2 linked regions of the Homo sapiens genome follow. The protein of the gene in region 2 interacts with the protein of the main gene of each other region in a biochemical or structural test. Each region holds a gene or a part of one and is shown on either strand. Other genes may lie near its edges.

Evidence for each region.
Region 1: the proteins of RDH5 (region 2) and RLBP1 form a complex in vitro, tested with the Homo sapiens proteins (one study listed by BioGRID).

The regions. Positions count from the first base shown.
Region 1 is NC_000015.10:89,218,580-89,228,971, reverse strand, and holds the start of RLBP1 (retinaldehyde-binding protein 1), read left to right. Parts: upstream 1-7,392; 5' UTR 7,393-7,437; exon of another isoform or gene 7,438-9,112; 5' UTR 9,113-9,235; exon of another isoform or gene 9,236-9,896; 5' UTR 9,897-9,996; coding exon 9,997-10,008; intron 10,009-10,278; coding exon 10,279-10,392. UniProt on the Homo sapiens protein: Soluble retinoid carrier essential the proper function of both rod and cone photoreceptors.
Region 2 is NC_000012.12:55,711,298-55,726,504, reverse strand, and holds RDH5 (retinol dehydrogenase 5), read right to left. Parts: upstream 6,113-15,207; 5' UTR 5,988-6,112; intron 5,358-5,987; exon of another isoform or gene 5,353-5,357; 5' UTR 5,321-5,352; coding exon 5,011-5,320; intron 4,817-5,010; coding exon 4,558-4,816; intron 2,971-4,557; exon of another isoform or gene 2,620-2,970; coding exon 2,456-2,619; exon of another isoform or gene 2,184-2,455; coding exon 1,960-2,183; 3' UTR 1,800-1,959; downstream 1-1,799. Other genes in the region: CD63 antigen, read left to right, coding at 244-384, 609-692, 879-944; BLOC1S1 (biogenesis of lysosome-related organelles complex 1 subunit 1), read right to left, coding at 6,896-7,006, 7,282-7,414, 9,500-9,572, 10,309-10,453. UniProt on the Homo sapiens protein: Catalyzes the oxidation of cis-isomers of retinol, including 11-cis-, 9-cis-, and 13-cis-retinol in an NAD-dependent manner. Has no activity towards all-trans retinal.

The sequences.
Region 1 (10,392 bases), on a different chromosome or scaffold from region 2:
AAGTTGTTCATGAAAGGGTTGCACTGGCTCATAAATTTGGGAAATGCTGAGTTAAACTGGTTTTTTGTTTCTTTTCTTGAGAGAGGGTCTCACTTTGTCACCCAGGCTAGACTGCAGTGGCAAGATCATAGTTCACTGCAGCCTTGACCTCCTGGGCTCAAGCAATCCTTCTGCCTTGGCCTCCTAAGTAGCTGGGACCACAGGTGCAAACCACAACATCGAGGTATTTATTTTATTTTTTTAGAGACAGGGTCTCATTATGTTGACCAGGCTGGTCTGAAACTCTCAGGCTGTCAATTCTCCCATCTCAGCCCCACAAAGTGCTGGGATTGAAGGTGTGAGCCATTGTGCCCAGCCTAAACTGGTTTTCTAGATTTCTTTGCTACAGGACTTCTCAGAGCCTTTGCATTGCTTACTTTCATTAGTAACTTCCAATATAATTTGTAACATTTCTCAAACTTAATTAACCAAAGAACAACTCCCCATTTTTGTGGAGCATTTTTTGGCACTACCACATAGATCATTTCAGAACCTTTGTCTTGTCGTAGAACTTGCCCTATTTTATAATTATTTTGTGCAGGCCTCTCCCCTTCTAAACTGTGGGCTGCTTAAGGCAGAGACAGTATTTTATTTATCTCTGGATGCACAGTGCCTAATATATAATAGCTACTCAATACATGTTGGTTGAAAGAATATGGGAAAGGGAAGGTAAGAGAGGAAGGGAAAGAATGGTGAAATAAGAGAAAGAAGGCTTCTTGAGGCTGGGCGTGGTGACTCACACCTGTAATCCCAGCACTTTGGGAGGCCAAGGTGGGTGGATCACCTCGGTCAGGAGTTCGAGAGCAGCCTGGCCAACATGGTAAAACCCCAACTCTACTAAAAATACAAAAATTAGGCAGGCATGGTGGTGGGTGCCTGTAATCCCAGCTACTCGGGAGGCCGAGGCAGTAGAATTGCTTGAACCTGGGAGGCAGAGGTTGCAGTGAGCCAAGATCGCACCACTGCACTCCAGCCTGGATGAAAGAGCAAGACTCTGTCTAAAAAAAAAAGAAGAAGCCTTCTTGATTTTTACATTTAACATCCCAGAAACCCAGTACTTAGATTCTACCATAAATATTTTATTCTACTTGCTTCATCACATCTATCCATCTATCCATCCCTCGCATCAGCCATGGATCCATCTTCACTTCCTTTTTACTTGTGTGTGTTTGCAAGCTTATTTTTCCTCAGATCGTGGAAACACCTTAATTCTGAAATCCTCTTGGAACAAGCATCCTGATAGACTGTATTGTTCAGCTCCTCCTTGCTCATTCCCAGCACCTCCCACTCTTCCCCTGACACAGGCAGGCCTCTCTTTGTGGAATGAGCGGTGCCTCCTAGAGGGAGGGAACTTTTTAGAGCACGAAGAGTCTGCCCACCCCAGGGGTCAGAGACACTGCTTGCTCGCTCTCATTACCATGTTTAATTTTAAGGAAAGTGCAGAATGTTTCCGGACTTGGGTTTTCCCGCTTCTCAAAGGAAAGGTTGAGGCCTAGGATTCCATAAGGTCCTCCCTATCCCAGGATAATTATTACTGACCAAAGAAGGGATTGCATTGACCAAACTCTTGCCCACTGGAACTGCTCCCAGGGAGGGTCAGATGATGTCACCTTCCCCAGGAGCCAGGGGGCAGGTGTGAAGTCCCTGGGCAGACACCCCTGTGTTGATCTCGCTTCTTGAGGAGGGAGAGCCTTGTGTGTTGAATGCTGAGAGGGCTTTAGAATGGCCGAGACTCCATTTCTAACCAGCTGTGTGGCTTTGGGAAGACCCCTCACCTCCCGGACTCTCAGTATCCTAGTCTATGAAAAAGGGGATTATACTCTCTCACATCTGGAAGGGTTGGCTGAGATAAGGCTGGTAGGGCACAGGCCACGGTACAGAAAGGGGGCACAACAAATGTAAGTCATCCCCATCCCCGCCTTCAGCCAGGCAGAGGGCAGCAGGCCAGGGAGCCCATGGTTGTCTGCCAATGTTGCCAGCACAGGTGTCTGGGCCAATGAGGGTGCATCTCCTCTCACAGAGGCACTATTGTTCCCACCAGGGGAGCTGGACGTGAGCGTGACTCTTGGGAAGGGAGGAGGGAAGATTAGAGGCACTAGAAGGGCTGTGAGCAGAAGATAATGCTGCAGAAAGCTCTGCTCCCCCAGAATGACCTCGTGGCCTGCTAGTATCCCGAAAAGTTCTGTGCAGCCCACTTCTATCAGGGCTGGGCCATTAACTCAAAAGTGTTCTTGGTGCACAGGAATGTTCTTTGTGACAGAGTCTATCACCCAGCATTGACAGAGCCTCTTCTGAGCCCTCATGGTTCCTTCCCACGGGGCAGCCTGGGCTCTCATTCTCATTATCTCCAAGGAGCCTCACACTCTATGAAGTACCTGGGGAAAAAACCATCATCCCATCTGTATTCGTTTGCTATGGCTGCCATCACAAAGTACCATAGACCGGGTGGCTTAAACAACAGAAATTCGTTTTCTCACCGTTCTGGAAGCTGCAAGTCTGAGATCAAGGAGTTGGCAGAATCAGTATCCTCTGCGGCCTTTCTCCTTTCTTTGTAGGTGGCATTCTCTCCCTGTGTCTTCCCATGGTCTTCCCACTGTAACTGTCTGTGTCCTCTTCTTATAAGGATACCAGCCATATTGAATTAGGGCCCACACTAATGACCTCATTTTAACTTAATTGCCTCTTTAAAGGCACAATCTGTAAATAACAGTCACATTCTGAGGTCCTGGGGGTTAGAGCTTCCACATATGGATTGGGTGGGTGGGGAGTGGACAGATGCAGTTTGGCCCATGTAGCATCTTACAGGTGAAACAACTGAGGCCTAAGAGGGTCAGTGGCTCATACTGGGCAGGGCCAGACCTAGAATCAGGACAGGAGACCCTCCCTCTCTGCCTCCACTCACAACCCAGCCTCCACTTGCCTGTCCCAAAGAGGAAGAGGATGGTGGGTGAGGGCAGTCATCCGTCTGACTCCCCACCAAACCTCCCAGCTGGTGGCAGTGACAGGTCAGGCAAGCCACTGTGCTGGGCACAGACAGGAATAGCAGAAGGGGAGACATTCTCTAGGGCAGTGCTTTTCAAACTTTTATATGCGTGGGGGAATTATACCTGGTGAACTCCATTAAAATTAATTATTTATTTATTTATTTATTTATTTATTTATTTATTTTTGGGTTTTTTTGAGTCAGGGTTTCGCTGTGTTGCCCAGGCTGGAGTGTACTGGCTGTTCACAGGTACAATCATAGCTTACTACAGCCTCGAATTCCTGGACTCAAGAGATCCTCCTTCCTCAGCCTCCTCAGTAGCTGAGACTACAGAGCTGTGCCACCGTTCTGGCTAAAAATTAAGTAATTTTAAGTAATTAAGTTAAAATGAGGTCATTAGGATGGGCCCTAATCCAATCCAGGCTCTGACTTGGCCTCTCTGGGGAAGGGCCCAAGACTCTGCATTTCCCACAGGCTGCCAGGTAAGGCCAATGCTGCTGGTTTCTAGACCACACTGAGCAGTAGCAAGGTTTAGACCAGCACGCTCCATGAGAAATAGATGTCATTCTAAATTTTCTAATATCACATCAAGAAAAGTAAAAAGAAACAGGTGGGCCAGGTGCCATGGCTCAGGCCTGTAATCACAACACTTTGGGAAGCCAAGGTAGGAGAACAGCTTGAAACCAAGAGTTTGAGTCCAGCCTGGGCAACATAGTGAGACCCCATTTCTATAAAAAATAATTGTAAAAATTAGTTGAGGCCGGGCGTGGTGGCTCATGCCTGTAATCCCAGCACTTTAGGAGGCCGAGGCGGGCGGCTCACTTGAGGTCAGGAGTTCGAGACCAGCCTGGCCAACATGGTGTAACCCCGTCTCTACTAAAAATATATACAAAAATTAGCTGGGCGCGGTGGTGCCCACCTGTAGTCCCAGCTACTCGGGAGGCTGAGGCAGGAGAATCGCTTGAACCCAGGAGGTGGAGGCTGCAGTGAGCTGAGTTCACATCACTGCACTCCAGCCTGGGCGACAGAGCAAGACTCCATCTCAAAATAAATAAATAAATAAATAAAAAATCAGTTGGGCAGGTTAGCGCCTGCTGATAGTCCTAGCTACTCAAGGGGCTGAGGCAGGAGAATTGCCTGAGCCCAGGAGTTGGAGGCTGCAGTGACCTATGATCATGCCAGTGCACTCCAGGCTGGGCGACAGAGAGAGAGCCTACCCCTAAAAAAAAGAAACAGGGCTAGGCCTGGTGGCTCACGTCTGTAATCCCAGTAATTTGGGAGGCCAAGGTGGGATGATCGCTTGAGTCCAGAAGTTTGAGATCAGCCTGGGCAACAGAGTAAGACCTTGTCTCTACAAAAAACAAACAAACAAAATATGGCCGGGCATGGTGGCTCATATCTGTAATTCCAGCACTTTGGGAGGCTGAGGCAGGTGGATCACCTGAGGTCAGGAGTTCAAAACCAGCCCGGCCAACATGGTGAAACCCAGTCTCTACTAAAAACACAAATAGCTGGGTGTGGTGGTGGGCACCTGTAATCCCAGCTACTCAGGAGGCTGAGGCAGAAGAATTGCTTGAACCCGGGAGGCAGAGGTTGCAGTGAGCTGAGATAGTGCCACTGCACTGTAGCCTGGGTGACAGAGCGAGACTATGTCTCAAAAAAAAAAAATTTTAGTTGGATGTGGTGGTGCACTCCTGTGGTTTCAGCTGCTCAGGAGGCTGAGGGAGGAAGATGGCTTGAGCTAGGGAGATCGAGGTCGCAGTGAGCCATAATCATGCCACTGCACTCTAGCCAGGGTGAGAGAACAAAACCCAGTCTCAAAAAAAGAAATGGGAAAAATTAGCTTGTGTGTGTGTGTGTGTGTGTGTGTGTGTGTGTGTGTGTGTGTATTTTTTTTTTGAGATGGAGTCTCACTCCATCACCCAGGCTGGAGTGTAGCGGTGTGATCTCAGCTCACTGCAACCTTCACCTCTAAGGTTCAAGCAATCCTCCTACCTCAGCCTCCTGAGTAGATGGGATTACAGGTGCCTGCCACCATGCCCAGCTAATTTTTGTTTTTTTGCAGAGACTAGGTTTCACCATGTTGGCCAGGCTGGTCTCAAACTCCTGACCTCAAGTGGTCCTCCCTCCTTGGCCTCCCAAAGTGCTGGGATTACAAGCTCTAATATATTTTTAACCCAATATATAACAAACATGATGATGATAATTTCAGAACATTAAGCCTTATAAAAAGTGTTAATGGGATATTTTACATTATTTTGTTTGTACTAAGTCTTTAGATACTTTATAGCACATCTCACTTGGGACTCTAAATTCTTATGAGAAATACTTCACAAAATTTACAGTTAAAAAAATAGGATCACACATATAAATTGTTCTAAACCTACTTAAAAGTTTTCAAAACACTGAATCCAGTATTAGTTTTTAAATTTAAATTTAAGTTAATTAAAATCAAATAAAATTAAAAATGTAAGGCTGGGCACAATGGCTCACGCTTGTAATCCCAGCACTTTGGGAGGCCAAGGCGGGGTGATCACTTGAGCTCAGGAGTTCGAGACTAGCCTGGCCAACATGTGAAACCCTGTCTCTACTAAAAATACTAAAATTAGCCGGGCATGGTGGTGCGTGCCTGTAATCCCAGCTACTTGGGAGGCTGAGGCATGAGAATCACTTGCACCTGGGAGGCGGAGGTTGCAATAAGCTGAGATCGCACCACTGCACTCCCGCCTGGGTGACAGAGCGAGACTCTGTCCCCTGCCAGACTCCCACAAAAATTTAGTTCTTGGGTCGTATTACCCTATTTATAAAAATTTTTTTTATAGTGAGACCCAATCTCTAGCATTACCCCATTTCGAATGCTGAAAAGCTACATGGGGCTAGCGGCTACTATATAAGACAGCATAGGACTAGACCACCAGGAAGAAGAATGACATAAATGAAGGATCCCCAGCTCCACAGAGGACTTGGGACAGAAACAGCCCAAGACCCAGACAGCAGCCAGAGTAGGAGCCCAGGGAAAGGGCTTTTGGAAACAAAGAGCTCAAGGTGACTCAAATGCACCCCAAGATCTAAGCACCAGGCATTGCAGCCTGCTCTGGAGGAAGGGGTCGGCAGGAGATGGGGTGGTGGGAAGAAATCCCAAACCTGCCAAAGTAGGAATGGGTGGAAAAGCAAGAACTATGTCCAGGGAAAATAAAAAAGCACTTCTGGGGTTGGATTCTGGAGAGCGACCTGTGCAGGGGAGCTTGACCTTCTCCTGGGCACCTCTAGGAGGCAAAACCAGGACCAAGGGTGGTCATTATAGGAAGCTGCTTGGGGCTCAAACCAACAATGAGGTTTTAAACAAGGAGAGCTCCCCAGTAATGGAAACAGGGAGCTTCCCGCCCTTGGAATCCTAGACAGAAAATGTTCTACAGGAATTACCTCCTCCTCATCCAGTGGAATAGCAAAACAGAGGCTGGGAAGTTACCTGTTGAGAGGCTGCAGAGGGGTTTCTTCCTGTACAAAGGATTGAATAATAAGTTCCCTCCAGTTAGGCACCTATTGATACTGTATTTGGAGTAACTGACCTTTCCAGAGGACTTATTGTCAGGCAGCTAAACCCCTGAACTAAGCACTTTACTGCCATTTCATCCGCACTAAAGTCATGAGCCTGGTCCTCTAGTTTTCTACACTTCTTAGAGGAGGAAACTGAGCCGATGAGTTTTGAAGTCATGTTTCCCGGCCAGAAGATGCTCGAGCGAGGCTTTACAGGCGGGCAGTCTGGTTCCAGGGCATGCCACTGCACCACACTGCCCAGAAGGAGGCTCAGCCTGTCTTGTCCTCTCCCTGCTTGGCCTTAACCAGCCACATTTCTCAACTGACCCCACTCACTGCAGAGGTGAAAACTACCATGCCAGGTCCTGCTGGCTGGGGGAGGGGTGGGCAATAGGCCTGGATTTGCCAGAGCTGCCACTGTAGATGTAGTCATATTTACGATTTCCCTTCACCTCTTATTACCCTGGTGGTGGTGGTGGGGGGGGGGGGGTGCTCTCTCAGCAACCCCACCCCGGGATCTTGAGGAGAAAGAGGGCAGAGAAAAGAGGGAATGGGACTGGCCCAGATCCCAGCCCCACAGCCGGGCTTCCACATGGCCGAGCAGGAACTCCAGAGCAGGAGCACACAAAGGAGGGCTTTGATGCGCCTCCAGCCAGGCCCAGGCCTCTCCCCTCTCCCCTTTCTCTCTGGGTCTTCCTTTGCCCCACTGAGGGCCTCCTGTGAGCCCGATTTAACGGAAACTGTGGGCGGTGAGAAGTTCCTTATGACACACTAATCCCAACCTGCTGACCGGACCACGCCTCCAGCGGAGGGAACCTCTAGAGCTCCAGGACATTCAGGTACCAGGTAGCCCCAAGGAGGAGCTGCCGACCTGGCAGGTAAGTCAATACCTGGGGCTTGCCTGGGCCAGGGAGCCCAGGACTGGGGTGAGGACTCAGGGGAGCAGGGAGACCACGTCCCAAGATGCCTGTAAAACTGAAACCACCTGGCCATTCTCCAGGTTGAGCCAGACCAATTTGATGGCAGATTTAGCAAATAAAAATACAGGACACCCAGTTAAATGTGAATTTCAGATGAACAGCAAATACTTTTTTAGTATTAAAAAAGTTCACATTTAGGCTCACGCCTGTAATCCCAGCACTTTGGGAGGCCGAGGCAGGCAGATCACCTGAGGTCAGGAGTTCGAGACCAGCCTGGCCAACATGGTGAAACCCCATCTCCACTAAAAATACCAAAAATTAGCCAGGCGTGCTGGTGGGCACCTGTAGTTCCAGCTACTCAGGAGGCTAAGGCAGGAGAATTGCTTGAACCTGGGAGGCAGAGGTTGCAGTGAGCTGAGATCGCACCATTGCACTCTAGCCTGGGCGACAAGAACAAAACTCCATCTCAAAAAAAAAAAAAAAAAAAAAGTTCACATTTAACTGGGCATTCTGTATTTAATTGGTAATCTGAGATGGCAGGGAACAGCATCAGCATGGTGTGAGGGATAGGCATTTTTTCATTGTGTACAGCTTGTAAATCAGTATTTTTAAAACTCAAAGTTAATGGCTTGGGCATATTTAGAAAAGAGTTGCCGCACGGACTTGAACCCTGTATTCCTAAAATCTAGGATCTTGTTCTGATGGTCTGCACAACTGGCTGGGGGTGTCCAGCCACTGTCCCTCTTGCCTGGGCTCCCCAGGGCAGTTCTGTCAGCCTCTCCATTTCCATTCCTGTTCCAGCAAAACCCAACTGATAGCACAGCAGCATTTCAGCCTGTCTACCTCTGTGCCCACATACCTGGATGTCTACCAGCCAGAAAGGTGGCTTAGATTTGGTTCCTGTGGGTGGATTATGGCCCCCAGAACTTCCCTGTGCTTGCTGGGGGTGTGGAGTGGAAAGAGCAGGAAATGGGGGACCCTCCGATACTCTATGGGGGTCCTCCAAGTCTCTTTGTGCAAGTTAGGGTAATAATCAATATGGAGCTAAGAAAGAGAAGGGGAACTATGCTTTAGAACAGGACACTGTGCCAGGAGCATTGCAGAAATTATATGGTTTTCACGACAGTTCTTTTTGGTAGGTACTGTTATTATCCTCAGTTTGCAGATGAGGAAACTGAGACCCAGAAAGGTTAAATAACTTGCTAGGGTCACACAAGTCATAACTGACAAAGCCTGATTCAAACCCAGGTCTCCCTAACCTTTAAGGTTTCTATGACGCCAGCTCTCCTAGGGAGTTTGTCTTCAGATGTCTTGGCTCTAGGTGTCAAAAAAAGACTTGGTGTCAGGCAGGCATAGGTTCAAGTCCCAACTCTGTCACTTACCAACTGTGACTAGGTGATTGAACTGACCATGGAACCTGGTCACATGCAGGAGCAGGATGGTGAAGGGTTCTTGAAGGCACTTAGGCAGGACATTTAGGCAGGAGAGAAAACCTGGAAACAGAAGAGCTGTCTCCAAAAATACCCACTGGGGAAGCAGGTTGTCATGTGGGCCATGAATGGGACCTGTTCTGGTAACCAAGCATTGCTTATGTGTCCATTACATTTCATAACACTTCCATCCTACTTTACAGGGAACAACCAAGACTGGGGTTAAATCTCACAGCCTGCAAGTGGAAGAGAAGAACTTGAACCCAGGTCCAACTTTTGCGCCACAGCAGGCTGCCTCTTGGTCCTGACAGGAAGTCACAACTTGGGTCTGAGTACTGATCCCTGGCTATTTTTTGGCTGTGTTACCTTGGACAAGTCACTTATTCCTCCTCCCGTTTCCTCCTATGTAAAATGGAAATAATAATGTTGACCCTGGGTCTGAGAGAGTGGATTTGAAAGTACTTAGTGCATCACAAAGCACAGAACACACTTCCAGTCTCGTGATTATGTACTTATGTAACTGGTCATCACCCATCTTGAGAATGAATGCATTGGGGAAAGGGCCATCCACTAGGCTGCGAAGTTTCTGAGGGACTCCTTCGGGCTGGAGAAGGATGGCCACAGGAGGGAGGAGAGATTGCCTTATCCTGCAGTGATCATGTCATTGAGAACAGAGCCAGATTCTTTTTTTCCTGGCAGGGCCAACTTGTTTTAACATCTAAGGACTGAGCTATTTGTGTCTGTGCCCTTTGTCCAAGCAGTGTTTCCCAAAGTGTAGCCCAAGAACCATCTCCCTCAGAGCCACCAGGAAGTGCTTTAAATTGCAGGTTCCTAGGCCACAGCCTGCACCTGCAGAGTCAGAATCATGGAGGTTGGGACCCAGGCACCTGCGTTTCTAACAAATGCCTCGGGTGATTCTGATGCAATTGAAAGTTTGAGATCCACAGTTCTGAGACAATAACAGAATGGTTTTTCTAACCCCTGCAGCCCTGACTTCCTATCCTAGGGAAGGGGCCGGCTGGAGAGGCCAGGACAGAGAAAGCAGATCCCTTCTTTTTCCAAGGACTCTGTGTCTTCCATAGGCAACATGTCAGAAGGGGTAAGTACCCTGTCCTCCAGGGCTCTCCTCCACCCACCTTCCCTCTCTTCTCTCTCTTCCCTCTCCCTCCCTCCTTACTTCTCTATCTTATGCTCTGCCCGGGAATATAGGCACACACTTCTATAACCCCTGTGTGGGTCCTGACCCCACAAAAGGAGGAGGCTTAACAATGACCTTGGGCAAAAGAACTGAAGGTCTGAGCAGGCCCATTTCCCTGGCTGGCTCAGGCTGATGCGGTTGGCTGTTCCTCTTTTTCCTTTCTCTGCCCAGGTGGGCACGTTCCGCATGGTACCTGAAGAGGAACAGGAGCTCCGTGCCCAACTGGAGCAGCTCACAACCAAGGACCATGGACCTGTCTTTGGCCCGTGCAGCCAGCTGCCCCGC
Region 2 (15,207 bases):
GGTGTGGTGGTGAGTGCCTGTAATCCCACCTACTCAGGAGGGTGAGGCAGGAGAATCGCTTGAACCCGGGAGGCGGAGGTTGCAGTGAGCCGAGATTGAGCCACCGCTGGGCACTTGTCTGGGCAACAGAGCAAGTCTCTGTCTCAAAAAAAAAAAAAAAAAAAAAAAAAGAATTCTCATCTCCATATTGAAGGTGAAGGTTCACTTAACAACCTTCTTCTCCATATTTCTTCCCTCCCCCAGTTTAAGTGCTGTGGGGCTGCTAACTACACAGATTGGGAGAAAATCCCTTCCATGTCGAAGAACCGAGTCCCCGACTCCTGCTGCATTAATGTTACTGTGGGCTGTGGGATTAATTTCAACGAGAAGGCGATCCATAAGGAGGTAGGGAGGAGACTGTGTATGGGACTTGGGAAACCTGGGAAATGTTTTAGAATGCAAGAGACCCAGGATGGAGGTGGACAGGGTCAGGGATGGGGAGGGGATCTGGAAATGCTAAGGGTGGGGTGAAAGGTACAGGGGCAGGGAAGAGACTGATGGACCAAGGGAGGGGGTTGGGGTGGGAAGTTTCTGATGGTGCTTTTGTCCTTTGTGCCTGCCACCTTCAGGGCTGTGTGGAGAAGATTGGGGGCTGGCTGAGGAAAAATGTGCTGGTGGTAGCTGCAGCAGCCCTTGGAATTGCTTTTGTCGAGGTAAGAGATAACCCTGAGCAGGGGCTGGGACTCTGTCCAGGGTGCCTGGAGGGAAGGGGCTGAGGGGAGGAGGGTGCTGAACAGGAGGTACTGGCCTGGGAGTGTGTGTTTGGAGTCTCTTGCATGGGTCTGAGGTAGCTAGCCCTTCTGACTCCTCTCCACCCCTGTCCCCATCTTTCCTTCTAGGTTTTGGGAATTGTCTTTGCCTGCTGCCTCGTGAAGAGTATCAGAAGTGGCTACGAGGTGATGTAGGGGTCTGGTCTCCTCAGCCTCCTCATCTGGGGGAGTGGAATAGTATCCTCCAGGTTTTTCAATTAAACGGATTATTTTTTCAGACCGAAAAGAGATGGTCTGAGTTTGTCTTAGAGTGATGCTTGATTCCTTCCTTTCCTTACTGATGTTCCCTGTCCTCTGGGACCTTAATGCATGTGTACTTCGAGGTCTATTTTGGGGGGTGTTTGGGAAAGGAGGACTTTGCGAAGGTGTTGGTTGGGCAGGCAGTGGGAGAAGTGAGGATCCAGAGACTGTGGTGCTTTCTGCCCCCTAGTCTTATGCTGCCAGGCTCACTATGAACATTCATGAAGCCATCTGCTGCATAAGTCAAAGCAGCTCCCCAGAAAGGTCCCACCTGCGAGAGCCCAGCCCCCATCTGCCTTGGACATCTTCCTGGCCTTCTGTGCACCGCTAAGGGCCCAGCACCTCCCTTCCTGGCCAATCCTCAAGGGATCCAGCTCCTTTCGAAGTATGATAAGTTGCCTTGACACCTGTGTGGTCAGTGTCCTTAGCAGGAGAATTTATGTGAATATTGCCTTTTCTTCCATGGAAGCCACCCAGCCTGGCCCAGAACCCTCATCACCTGCTCTTCTCCCCCAAGAAATATGAAGACCATTCCCAGTACAGACACTGAATTGCAACCTTACTCCCCTTCAGAAAATAAGGGAAATGTATTAAAGTGCCCTTTGATGGCCACTCCCCGACGTGCAGCTGTAGATGTGAGGCAGTTCCCTGGCGCCCCACTGTGGGTGCTAGCTGTTTTGCAGGGACTGAACAGGCCAGAGACCGTGAGCATGTCGGTTTGGAGTAGTTGGCACTTAAATGGGGTCAGCCTTCCACTGGGCACATTTCTGCCCACCTTCTTTTTATTTTTTAAACAATACACTTTTGTTAGTGCTTATTTTGTGGCAGGCACCAGGCAGTACCAGGGTGGGGGCAGAAATAAATCAAAGTCCTTGTCCTTGAAAAACAATCTCTTGCTGGAAGGCTGGATTCAGTAGACTGCTTGGGCAGGCTTGGGAAGGACCCAGGTGAGCACAGCATCCACCAGGCTGGCTGGCAGGTAGGAGGCAGGCAGCCAGAGCAGCTTGGCATCCCAACCTGGGCTGTAGCGGGTTCGGGGGTGTCGAGCAGTCAGGGCATGCTCCAGGCATCGGCTCACCTTGGTTAGGTCCGGGTCACAGATCAGGTTCATGATGCGCTGTTGCATTTTCAGGTCTGCAGCCCCATAGGTGGTTGCAATCAGTTTCCCTTCCTCACTCCAGCCCATCTTAGGTACTGTCTTCTGGGGCCCTGGGCTTGTCACCCTCAGTCCCCTCCTCAGTGTGGGGAGTGGGCAGGTTCCACATGGCCTGGGCACTCTTGTAACATCCTGTTCACCCTCAACCCTGCCCTGGGTGCCCCACCCACCTCCTAGCAGGCTTATGCAGGACTGGCCTTTCTGGTACTTGTTTCCCTTCATGTGCCCCTGTGTGGGCCTGGCTACTCACACTTGGTGAGGAAGGCCCCCCCATAGTGGGCCTGTGTGGCAGGAGGCAGCCGTGCCCAGCAGGCCTGCAGGGTTTTCTCCAGACTCTCCAGGTTGGTCACAGGGGTTCGGAAGAAGCCAGGCTCCACGATGGAGACTCGTATCCCAAAATGAGCTACATCCCGCCTAGAGTCGGGGCAGAGCGAAGTTGCTGGGTTCTTGCCCTATAGGGAGGGGACTTTGAGGGACATGGGTTGGGGAGCTGAGAAAGTTACCACAGACCAGGGACAAGAGTTTTGACGGAGATGCCTACTGCCCCGGGACAAGGGTCAAGTGGGGTAGAGGGAGGAAAGTATTTTTGAGGTTTGTTTTCTTTGATCTAGAGCAGGGGTCAGCACGTTTTTTTCTTAAAGGGCCAGAGAGTTAATATTTTAAGCATGGCAGGCCAAGAAACAAAATTAATGATATTATCAGGTACTTATATAACAGTTTACAATGTAACCATTTAAAAATAAAAAAAACCATTATCAGCTTGTAGGCAGCTGGCCAGATCTGGCTTGAGTACTGAGTTTGCCGATTCCTGACCTAGAGGAACCCCATTCCCTTGCTCCCAAAACACATGGTTGAGCCCTGAGTGCTGGATATTGAAGGGTATAGTCTCGTATTTGCTGGAGGGTAAGCTGATGGGGAAAGTGGGGATACATCCCACTGCCCTGGCACAGATGTAGAAATCCAAGTATAGGTAAGGAGCAGGAGGGAAGGGGATAAAAAAAAATTCAAGTATAAAGTATGTGTTCCAGTATGCAGTGGCTCACACCTATAATCCCAACACTTTGGGAGGCCCAGGCGGAAGCATCGCTTGAGGCCGGGAGTTGGAGACAAGTCTGGTCACCACAGCAAGACCCCATCTGTAAAAAAATACTAGCCAGGCATGCTGGCACGCGCCTGTGGTCTCAGCTACTCAGGAGGCTGAGGCGGATATCGCTTGAGCTGCTTGAGCCTAGGAGTTTGAAGTTCAGTGGGCCGTGACTGCACCACTGCACTCCACCCTGGGTGAGAGCAAGGCCTTGTCTCAAAACTAAAAGTATGTGTCCCATGATGCTGCCTGAAAAATTAAGGCTGAGAGACAGGAGACATTCAGGTTATTTGCTGAGTGATGGTGACAAACGCAGGCTTCCTTAGAAGGTAGACTAAGCTTAGGCGCCTTATACTCCTGCTAAGAACTCAGGCCTTGGGCCGTGTGTGGTGGCTCATGCCTGTAATCCCAGCACTTTGGGAGGCCGGGTCGGGTGGATCACCTGAGGTCAGGAGTTCAAAACCAGCCTGGCCAACATGGTATAACTCCATCTCTACTAAAAATACAAAAAAATTAGCTGGGAGTGGTGGCACGTGCCTGTAAGCCCAGCTAATCGGGAGGCTGAGGCAGGAGAATCACATGAACCTGAGAGGCAGGGGTTGCAGTGAGCTGAGATCTCGCCATTGCACTCCAGCCTAGGCAACAAGAGCAAAACGCTTAAAAAAAAAAAAACAAAAAAAAACTCAGGCCCTACTCCCGTTGTCCTCATCATGTCTCCTTTGTGCTCCCACGGAACTTTGAACCTTATTGTTTAAAGACGAGAGGCAAGGCCGGGCGTGGTGGCTCACACCTGTAATCCCAGCACTTTGGGAGGCTGAGGTGGGCGGATCACGAGGTCAGGAGTTTGAGACCAACCTGGCCAACATAGTGAAACCCTGTCTCTACTAAAAATACAAAAATAAGCCAGGCATGGTGGCGCATGCCTGTAGTCCCAGCTACTCGGGAGGCTGAGGCAGGAGAATCGCTTGAACCCCGGGGGTGGAAATTGTGGTGAGCCAAGATCGCGCCACTGCACTCCAGCCTGGCGACAGAGCAAGACTCCATCTCAAAAAACAAAAAACAAACACGTTAAAAATGGGTAAAGAGAAGTAATCTACTTATGGTCACAAAGCTTACATAAGGGTAGACTTCATTGAACCCATGAAGTCTAGCCCTAAACTGTCTCTTCTTAACTATTCCAATGTGCTGTATCTTAACCACCTCTGCTGGCCCACGTTTGTTGAGTGGGCTGCTGTTAGTCCTGGAACCCAGAGCCCTGTACCCCTCACCTCAGGCTGTCAGAGAAGGCCTCCAGGCCAAATTTGGAGACACAGTAGCCCCCACCATTGGCTGCCAGGCGACCCAGGACGCTGGTGATGTTGATCACCCGGCCCCGGGCTTGCTGCAGCAGAGGCAGCAGGGCAAGGGTGACCCCGATGGGACCCATTGTGTTCACATTCAGCACCCGCTGGAAATCGTCCCGGGTCAGCCATGGTGTGGGTCCGATGATACCAGCCACACCAGCATTATTCACCAGACCAAAAAGCCCTGTGGGGAGATGAAAAGGATGCTGGGGGTAGGTGAGGCACTCCCACAGCTCCCTCTTCTTCCTGGGAGCATCTGAAAACTGCTTCTCCTCAAATTGTCCCTTTAGCTTACCACAGCCCTTGCAGGTGACTCCTGGGGTGACTGTGGGGATCAGGACACCCCACACCATATTCCTGGTGGTCTACCATACTTACCTGCTTCCTTAACGTGCATCTCCACCCACTTGGCTGCCTGCTGGACGCTCTGGGGATCAGTGATATCCAACAGGGTGGTGTGGAGGCGGGAGGAGGCCACCCGCTGCAGGTCCTCGGCCCCGGAGGGGGTCAGGCAGCTGGCCAGGACTCGGAAGCCTCTCTGGTCCAGCTGCAGTGCCAGAAGGCGCCCAAAGCCTGAGTCACAGCCGGTGATGAAGACAAAGGCATTGCTGGCGGGCAGGCTCTGCCGGTCCCTGAGCAACCACAGCACTGCCCAGAGTAAGGCACCCAGCAGAAGAGGCAGCCACATAGCTGGAGCCCAAGTGACCTACAGGTGGCAGCCTAGGCTGGGCAGAAAAACTTGTCCAGTTTACTGTGGCCCTCAAGCCCTTTCCCCTAATACCCTCCCTAGCTGGAAGCATCTGGTGTGAGCATATTGAGAAATTATCTGGTTGGCAGATAATTGGCCAACCATGGCTCATCTGTTCAAAGCAAAGATGTGGGCAGACCCTGTATTTGTGGCTAACTTAACTAAAACCACATGAGCCAGATCCTGTGTACAGACCTGCTGTATGGAGCAGAGGCATCTTTTTTTTTTTTTTTTTTTTTTTGAGATGGAGTCTCACTCTGTCGCCCAGGCTGGAGTGCAGCAGAGGCATCTTCTTGCTTGCCTCACACCACCTCTCCTTCTAAACCAGGGACACTGAACCTTCTATATGCAACCTGGGTCTTGTGTTTGGAATGATGTATAGGGCCAAGAGGTTTGCTGTGTGATACTGAGCATCTCACTGTCTCTCTCAACCTATTTTCTCATCTACCAAGTGGGGCTAAGACCCACCAGGTCCACCTCAGAGTTGTGGAGGATCAAAGGGGATAATGTGTGAGGAAGCATGTTAAAAGCTGAAAGTTTTGAGTTGGCAATACATGTAATATCTGGCTAGTCTTCTCAGTTCCCCCAGCTCCCAGTATCCACTTACCTCCTGTGGCGAAAGCTGGCAGGTACTACAGCGCCCGAAGCTTATTCTTTTGCTTTTGTTTAAGAGACTGCTCCCAGTCTTCCCAGCCTCCCACACTAACTACTGCTAAGGCCAAAGTCCGGAGTGGGTGGACTTGGATGCCAGGCGTATTAAGTGTATGTGTGACAGGGTGGGGATAGGACTGAGGAGGAGGAGGAGCCAGGGAGGCTGGAGCTTGCCTGGCTGAAGCCAGGACTTGGCAGAGGCCAGATTTGCCTAGGCTCCCCCCACCCCTTGGCTGTCTTTCTCAGCCTGGGTTCCTGACCATCTATGTCATGGTCTCCAAGGAGGAGGGAGCTGTCAAGGATGGCAGCTGCACTGCTCTGTTGGTAACGGTTACTGGACCTGTCATTCCTCCCCCTTCTCAGCCCTGAAGTGCCCCCAGGAATTAATCTCCCACCTGGCTCAGACTCATGACACTGCTTAGAGTTAGCCTGGGAGAGGCCATGAGCACGTGGAGAGGCAGAAAGCCAGAGCTGGGGACCAGGCCTGTACCTTGCCTTGTTTCTCTTCTGTAGGAAACAAGTCCTGAATTAGGAAGCTTGGGGCAGGGCTACTAGGACCTTCTCTCAGGAGGGATGGGAACTCCCACCCTCTGCTTGCCTAACAGACACCTGCACAAGGGCCATGGAGGAGAAGAGAGTTGGGATAGTAAGAGGAAGCTAGTTCCACCCTCTCCCCAAAAGGTACCTGTCCCTCAGGGAAACCACCTTTGAACCTTCCACTCCCACCCCCGACACTGGAGCTAGTAGCTCTCTGAAACACACCACAGAGAAACGGAGGCTTGTGTTTTATTCAAGGCTTGTCAGCCTCCCTCCTTCCCCCTGCGGGTGAGGTAGGAGGGATAGGGTTGGGGGAGGGAACAGGGGCTAGGAAGGGGCAGACTGCAGCTGCCCTTTGTAGACATATTCCAGTGCAGTGGCAATGGTGCGCATGTCCAGCTCGATGCTCCGAGCCCAGTTCTCCACATCCCCAATTTCCTGGGAAGGGGGAGAGGAGGTGGGAGCCCAGGAATCAGAATGGGTAGAGTATGGCTTCCAGTCTGGGGAATACGTTTTATTCATCTCCTGGAAAAGGCTTTACTTGGACCCACCAACTGCTTTTCTTTCTTTCTCTACCTTTTCTGACACTGGGGCTATAGATGGGGTTTCTGGGACCACCCTACTTCCTCCTTAACCTAAACCTGAGGTAACCTGACTGGAGGCAGCCAATGGGGGCCCAGGATTGGGGTGGTGAGGTAGGGAGTATGGCCCACCTTGAGTGCCTGGTTGAAGTTCTCCACCATTCCGATCCACTGGCCTGTCTGCTTGGCAAATTGGGCAGCCTGGACCTGTAGGGTCTTCACCTCATGGTCCAGCTTTCTCTGGTTCATGTAGGCCTGGGCCACACTGGGGGGTTGGAGGAGGGAGGAGATCAGCTCCAGCTAGTTGGGGGTGGTCTCCGGGACTAATATTCCATTGCAGCAGTGGGAGTTCAGCCAAGAATCAGGGCTCATAATTTTGGCCATTTTTGGATGTGATGCAAATGACTACCAGTACATGCAAATAAACCCAGCTCCTTCCTTTCACTCCCAGGATTCCCAGGAGAGCCAAGCTCGGAGCTGACTAGAAACATACCAGCTCCAAACCCCAAAAAGGAGTTCCTGCAGCTGAGTGGGGGAAGGGAGGGAAAACCTGGGGTGATATCCCTGAGGAAAAAGCTGGGAGGGAAAAAGGGGCATGGAAAAACTGGGAAAATCCAGCAGGAGGAACACATCTGGCAGTGATTGGAAGCCTAGGGATCTATGCAAGAAGTTGGAGAGGGAAATTGGGCCCCTCCCTGAAGCCGGGTTAGGATGGGAGTACAAACCCCCTCCCCAGGAACCCTGGGTCAAAAGAGGGTATCCCAGGGGTTTCTTCTCGGCTCTCAGTTGCTCTCCCAAGCCTTCGCTTTTGCCCACACAGATCAAGGAACACACACAAACACACACACACACACACACACACATGCTCTCCCTCCCTTCTGCCTTAGGCACTAGTTTTTCTTTTCAATCAAGGTATGGGCTGTGGTTACCATTACTACCATGGGGTTGGTGTCCCCAACCTTCTGCCAGTGTTTTTTGCCCTCCCCAACCCCTGCAATAATTGTTCTCCTTTATTGGCTGTTGAATTTTTCACTTCCCACCCCAGAGCTCTACTCAGCCAGGAGATTCCACATCCGGTGCCCCCACCCACTGGAATGTGTGGGGGCTGGAGCGGGGAAGGGGTTGGTGGGGGCTGAGGGAGTGGGCAGGACACCTGACAGGGGCCAAGATAGACTGAGCCTTTGTTTTCCTTTCCGGGGAATGAGAGGAGGCGTGGGCAGCAACACAAAACCCTTTCTAATCTGGCTTTGGCTTAGCTGCCCTCTAAGCTGAAAGTGGGGTGGCATCTAGCAAAGGAAAAGAAGAGGGAAAGGCCTGGGCCAATCTCACAAATGATGGGCACAGCAGAGCCCAGGAGGTGCCAATGTGGGAGGGAGGAAATGGGAGGGCAGACCCTGTTCCTTCTTTTTGGGAGACAGCTGGGTCACTGTCAAGGGTCGGGTAGGAACTGAAACAGACTCCCCTGAGAATTCCTGAACTTCTGGTTTTCCCCATTGACCACCTGCTTCTATATTCACACTGAGTAAAGAGAGCTGCCTGGAGAGAAGGGAGATCAGAGGCCCCAGCCACAACTTTCTTTCTCTCAACCTTCCCCCAAGATGAGTAACAAAGATGACCCCAGCCCCTGCATGGCTCACTTGGATGACTCAGTCTCTGGATTCACACCGAGCTGTTCTACTTGACCTGGGGTGGAAGGTACCATACTGCCTTTCTTCCAATAGGCAGACTAGCAAATCATCATCTCTGCACGCTTCTGGGTCACTTAGGGTCAAGAGACAATGTTCTTTGCTTTTTCCCAAGTCTTTGGCTGTTACTTGCATTCTCATTTAGGGCTGGGGCAGGGTGTGGTCCCTAGAGACCCAATAGGAAGGTAAGAGACAGCCTGGCTCTGCCATAGCTCCCGGAACAGGTTCTACTCTCACCACCACCAGCTCTGCCATCTCTTTCCTGCCAGCTGCTCCCCAGGCTTGCCAGAGGGTGGGAGGCAGAGGAGAGGGTGGTAAGCTGTAATGAAGGAGGGTGCTCTCCCTCCTGCTGAAGTGACAGCTGGACTTGGAAGGGTGAAGGGAGGTGGGCAGATGGCATCAAGTTGTAAATGCCAGGGAAGTTAACGTGGGGAAGGGGAAATCTGGCTGCTTCTCTAACCACGGCAGCTGTTCCTCCCTTGCCCAGTGCTAGGACTCAGAGTTGACTCAAGTTGCTCTACAAAGAGCTGGGAGGGGCGGGGTAGGATAGGGGAATTAGTGGAACATCCCACCCCTTCAACAGCTATTTGAGGGCCAGACTGGCCAGTGCCTAAACTTGGGCGGGGTGGGGAAGGAGGAAACTGATGTTGATAAGAGGTCCATACCCCACATTGAGGTGATCCACCAAAGCTTCTGTCAGGCAGGTCGCTGCAGTGATAGCCTCTCGCCTCCTCTTTTCTGGGGAGAGGGGGAAAAGGAATTGGAGGGGAGACTTGGTTTTTTGAGGGGTAGTGTTAAAGGTTCCCTACCCATCCATTACTATTCTGCTAGTTGCCGAAATTTCTTAACTAATCTCTGAATGCCGGAGCTGAAAAGGACCTTGCAAAACATAGCGCAACCTCTTTCATTTTAGAGATGAGGAAACTGGTACCCTGGGAGGGAAATGGACTCACTCAGGGACGCCAGGAAGTCAGCGGCAGCGCCCAGGACTCCTGACTCCCAGGCACTCTTTCTCCACTACTCGGCCGCAGAATCGGTAACTCCGAGATTTCCAGCCCGGACTCAGGAAACAAGTGCCCCACCTCCGTTCCGGTGGTTTCAGGCCTCCAAGAAGCCCATCTCTGGGGGGTTCCCCACACCCTCCTCCCTCCAGAGTCGCTCCTTCCCGCCGCCAGGACGAGAGGCTCCCAGGGCCAATAGGCAGGGCGCTCCGGGGCAGGGGCGGGGCTAAGGTGCGGCAGGTCGGGGATTGGGGGCGTTGCCGAGGGGACCGGAGTATTGCCCAAGGGACCGGAGCCAGTTGGCAAGGGAAAGGAGTTTCAAAAAAAGCCTCTCTGAAATTCCCTCTCCCCCATGCCCGTTGCCCGCTAGCTGGCGTCTTTCCCTGGATATGGTTAGTTACTCGAGATCCAGGCTCCGGGCTGAAGCTAGGCCGCGGCCGAAGAGAAAACGGCCGACAGGATATTTGGCTCACCCTGCAGCTCCTTGCGTTCATTCTGCTTGGCCTGGTGTTCTTTTAGGAGGCGGGACAGCATGGTCACGTCGGGCTGGGGGCTGGGTACGCCGGGCCCCCTCCGGCTCCGGAAGCTGGAACGCTCACCTCGGCTCCCCGGGGCCATGTCACGTGACCGCTGTGTCACGTGAGGTTGGGAACCGCCCTCTTGAGACCTTGGGTGAAGATCTTGGCGGGGAAGAGAGGTAGAGGGTTGCGGAGGGCAGGTGAAGTGTTCTTTATTGGGAGCTTAGTTTTTGGTGAGTGTTGGAAGAAGTATTTTCTAATACTTATATTGCCAAGCCAGTTTTTAACATTTCCTGTGGATCTCAGGCTTCGAGGGCTGGTGGTGTCAGGCCGTCTATCACCGTTTAATTGAGGGAGCAGAAGCTCCCTGGCCTCATTTAAATTATTCTCCTTCCCTCTCCTCACCTCCTGGCAGTGCTAGCTGGTTCTCAGTTGATTCCCAGTTCCTTCCCTCAAGGAGAGGATGCTTTCCTGTCTCTCCCAACCCTCTTTCTTCTCACTACCCCACTGAAGTCTCTCAGCTCTGGGTGATCATTGTAGAGAAGCATTTTAGGCACTTCAGACAGCCTCCTAGGGAGCTTGGCTAACTTGGCGGGCTGTGTGAATGTAGAATTTCATCTCTGTCCTTTTGTGGTCAGGAATGCGAACCCATTTCAGTGTTAGCAGAAGCGTAAGTGCTGTGCCAAAGTAAAAAGTAATTTATATAAGGCCTCTGTGAACTAAAAAGAAATGCTTCCGGGATTAACTCCAGCGAGAACAATTATAAACATCATGAGCATATTCTTGCTACTGGTACAATCTCTCTCGGTGCACCTTGCACTAACATGTTGGGTGACTTTGGGCAAGTTGCTCACCATTCTAGGTTATAGTTTTCTCTTTAGTAAAACTAGGAGAAGGGATTGGATTAAATCGGTGGTTCTCAACCCTGGCTAAGCATTAGAATCTAAACATTAGAATCACAGAAATCACAAGGCTTATAAAAATGCCGTGATTAGCCGGGTGCGGTGGCTCACGCCCGTAATCCCAGCACTTTGGGAGGCCGAGGCGGGCGGATCACGAGGTCAGGAGTTCGAGACCAGGCTGACCAACATGGTGAAACCTTGTATCTACTAAAAATACAAAATTTAGCCAGGCGTAGTGGCACAAGCCTGTAATCCCAGCTACTCAGGAGCCTGAGGCAGGAGAATCGCTTGAACCTGGGAGGCAGAGGTTGCAGTGAGCCGAGATCACGCCACTGAACTCCAGCCTGGGCGACAGAGTGGGACTCTGTCTCAAAAAAAAAAAAAAAAAAGCCTTGATTCCAGACTAATTAAATAGAATCTAAGGAGTGAAGACCAAACATCACTATATATATGTATGTATATATGTATGTATACGTATATATGTGTATATATGTATGTATACGTATATATGTGTATATATGTATGTATATGTATATATGTATATATAAAATTATTATTATTTTTGAGACAGAGTCTCGCTCTGTCGCCTAGGCTGGAGTGCAGTGGCATGATCTCAGCTGACTGCAACCTCCACCTCCCAGGTTCAAGCGATTCTCCTGCCTCAGCCTCCTGAGTAGCTGGGATTACAGGCATGTGCCACCACACCTGACTAATTTTTGTATTTTTTTTTTTGAGACGGAGTCTCGCTCTGTCGCCCAGGCTGGAGTGCAGTGGCGGGATCTCGGCTCACTGCAAGCTCCGCCTCCCGGGTTCACGCCATTCTCCTGCCTCAGCCTCCCAAGTAGCTGGGACTACAGGCGCCCGCCACTACGCCCGGCTAATTTTTTTTTTTTGTATTTTTAGTAGAGACGGGGTTTCACCGTTTTAGCCGGGATGGTCTCGATCTCCTGACCTCGTGATCCGCCCGCCTCGGCCTCCCAAAGTGCTGGGATTACAGGCGTGAGCCACCGCGCCCGGCCTAATTTTTGTATTTTTAGTAGAGATGGCATTTCACCGTGTTGGTTAGACTGGTCTTGAACTCCTGACCTCAGGTAATCTGCCCGCCTCGGCCTCCCAAAGTGCTGGGATTACAGGTGTGAGCCACCGTGCCTGGCCTTATCAGTATATTTTAAAAGCTGTTCTGGTGATTCTAATGTGTATCCAGGGTTGAAACTCACTGGGCTAAACCATATCTAAAACTATTTCCAGCTTTGGCATTCTCTCATTTTGTGATTCATTGGCATAGTTGAAGTTGACGTCATTATATTTACTTGCAGGGGGAGGAGAAATGGGTGCTGATTGCATTAGAAGAAAACATTCTTGAATTTTCTGAGTAAGATTTGAGAATTACTGATCAATGATTCATTCAACTATTTGCAGAATAGCATCCCAAATCCTGGGAGATGTGCAACTGTCAAAGGATTAGTGAGGAGAAGCACATGAAATGCTTAAGTGGCAGCATAAAGCAAAACATTTTAAGTGCCAAAATAAAAATTCTAATAAAAACGTTAGATACTGTGTGTATGTGTCTAAATTATATGTGTACTGTATCTTCTTTCTAAACATTTCTTAGTACTCATCATAGTCAAGCACTTTACATGTATGTATTCATTTAATCCCTAGAACAGTTCTGTGAAATATTATTACGAGTATCCCAAATTTGCAGATGAAGAATCTGAGGTACAAGGCAGTTAAGTAATAGAGTTCATTAGTGGTAGAGCTAGGATACAAATCCAGGCTATCTGACTCCAGAGCCTGAGTCTTACCGCTGTATACTGCATAAACCACAGTTGAGACCCCAGGAGGGTAGACCCAGAGCACTTTTCTGGGAATCTCTCTGTCTCTAATCATTATGCCCCTCTAGCTTGCTGGGCATGAGCTGTAGAGAATCCTGGCAGGGGAGGAGTGTTTGAGAAGAGGCTCTGCTCCAGAGAAGGGCTAATCAATAGAAGTGGGAAGAGTGAGAGCATCACAGAGCAGCCTGGCTCTGTCCTCCCCACTCTCTGGCTCCAGCTTCCAACTGCAGTGAGCAAGCAAAATAGAGGCAGATTGGAAATGCCTGGTGCCTCACCTCCAGAGCTGTGGGGCCTGGAAGAGAAGGACATGGGTTGGAAGTGTCAAGATAATGGTGACATGGGATAAGTGAAACAGAGGGTGAGGGCTAATGGGGGTTAGTGTTGGGGGGGTCTCAAAAGTGAGTCTAAATGTTAAGATTAGGCCAACTCAGGGAGAGTGTCAGGCCCATCCTGTATTACCCTCACCCTTCTTGGCACAACTGCCTGACATTTTCACAATCGGTGTAGAGACTGCCAGGATTCTGCAGACATTAGCCTCTCCCTTCTCTCCCACACACTGGCTGTTCCTTTGCCCTAGAGCTGAGCAGAGGACATGGGGTATCTGTATCTAGTGTCCCCATCTGATCTCTCTAGGGTTATCCTCCATCTGTTCTTTTTCTGGGCCTTTATTGTTCACTGTCTAACCTTAGTTTCTGCTGCAGTTGAAGCTCAGCTTCACTTGTCCTTGGTAGAGATGGACACAAGTCGCATACATATCTATCTGGAGAATGACTCTTGAAATTTGAAGTCTCTTTCTGCTCACCTCTCCTTACGATTTCCTACTCAGATTATTTTCCCTTGGACTGAATGAATGCAACTCCACACTCCTTTCTTCACTCATTTCCCTCTTCTTTTGAGGTCTCTTTCAGAGTTAGCTTTAATTAGCAAGCTCCAAACTGACTGGCTGGGCCAAACAGGGCTGGAAGCTGCTGAGTTGTTAGGGGTTGGATGAGGGCTGAGGGAGGACACAGAGTGAGTAGACAAGGCTTCACATACTGGGAGATCTGGCTGGGCTTCAAGAGAGGGGGTTGGTGGTGGTGTGGCTAAGTTCCAAATGTTGGCCTGAAGCCAGTGCTCAAAGAAAGGGGGCCCTTGAGACAGTCCAAATGGCTCCCTTTGGTAAGTGACCTCCCAGTCCTTCTCAAGTGTTAAGGGTTTCTTTTGGATCGTCAAAGACCGGAGCGGTCAAGCTGTTTCCCCACTGAATTCCCTCAATCACATTTATGTTCTTTTCCTCCCAGCCACTCCCATGGTTCAAGCTTTGACTACAACCAGAATTCAGAGGCAGGCAGAAGGATTCCAGTGCTGGAGAGGTGAGTGAAGTAAAAAAGTTCTCATGGTGTGCATGTTGGGACGGAAAAGCCTGACCTTGGGACATAAGCTCCAAGGCTCTGTTGCCAGATGAGGTGGAGGGAGAAGTTAGCCCTGAAGTGTGTGTTCTGGAAGTGTTTGCTTGTAAGCTAGAGACAACAGTTGCAAAAAGTGTGATTTGAGGGAGCTGAAAAATACTGATCTCAAAGTGGGGAAGAAGATGTTGAAAAGGGAAGGAGCTGGAGAAAGCCTCAGCTTCCACTCATACAAAAGCTAAAGGGCTAAAATCTTGGCTGGATCTGGACATTTCTCAACGTCTAAAATTTTGGAAATTTTTATAAAGATTATTAATCTTTCATTTTTACATTTAATTTATTTAAAAAGTTCAGTTTCTCAGTCATACTAGCCACATTTCTTTTTCTTTTTCTTTTTTTTTGAGACAGAGTCTCACTCTGTTGCCCAGGCTGAAGTACAGTGTATTAATCTATTCCATGGAGTGGAGTGGATAATCTATTCCATGGATTATCATTTTACTTTGTTAGTGGTATCCTTAGAAGCACAAAATTTTTAAATTTTTTTTTTTTTTTGAGGCAGAGTCTCACTGTGTCCCCCAGGCTGGAGTGCAGTGGTGCTATCTCTGCTCACTGCAGGCTCCGCCTTCTGGGTTCAAGCGATTCTTGTGCCTCAGCCTCCTGAGTAGCTGGGATTACAGGTGTGTACCACCACGCCCAGCTGATTTTTGTATTTTTAGTAGAGATGGGTTTTTG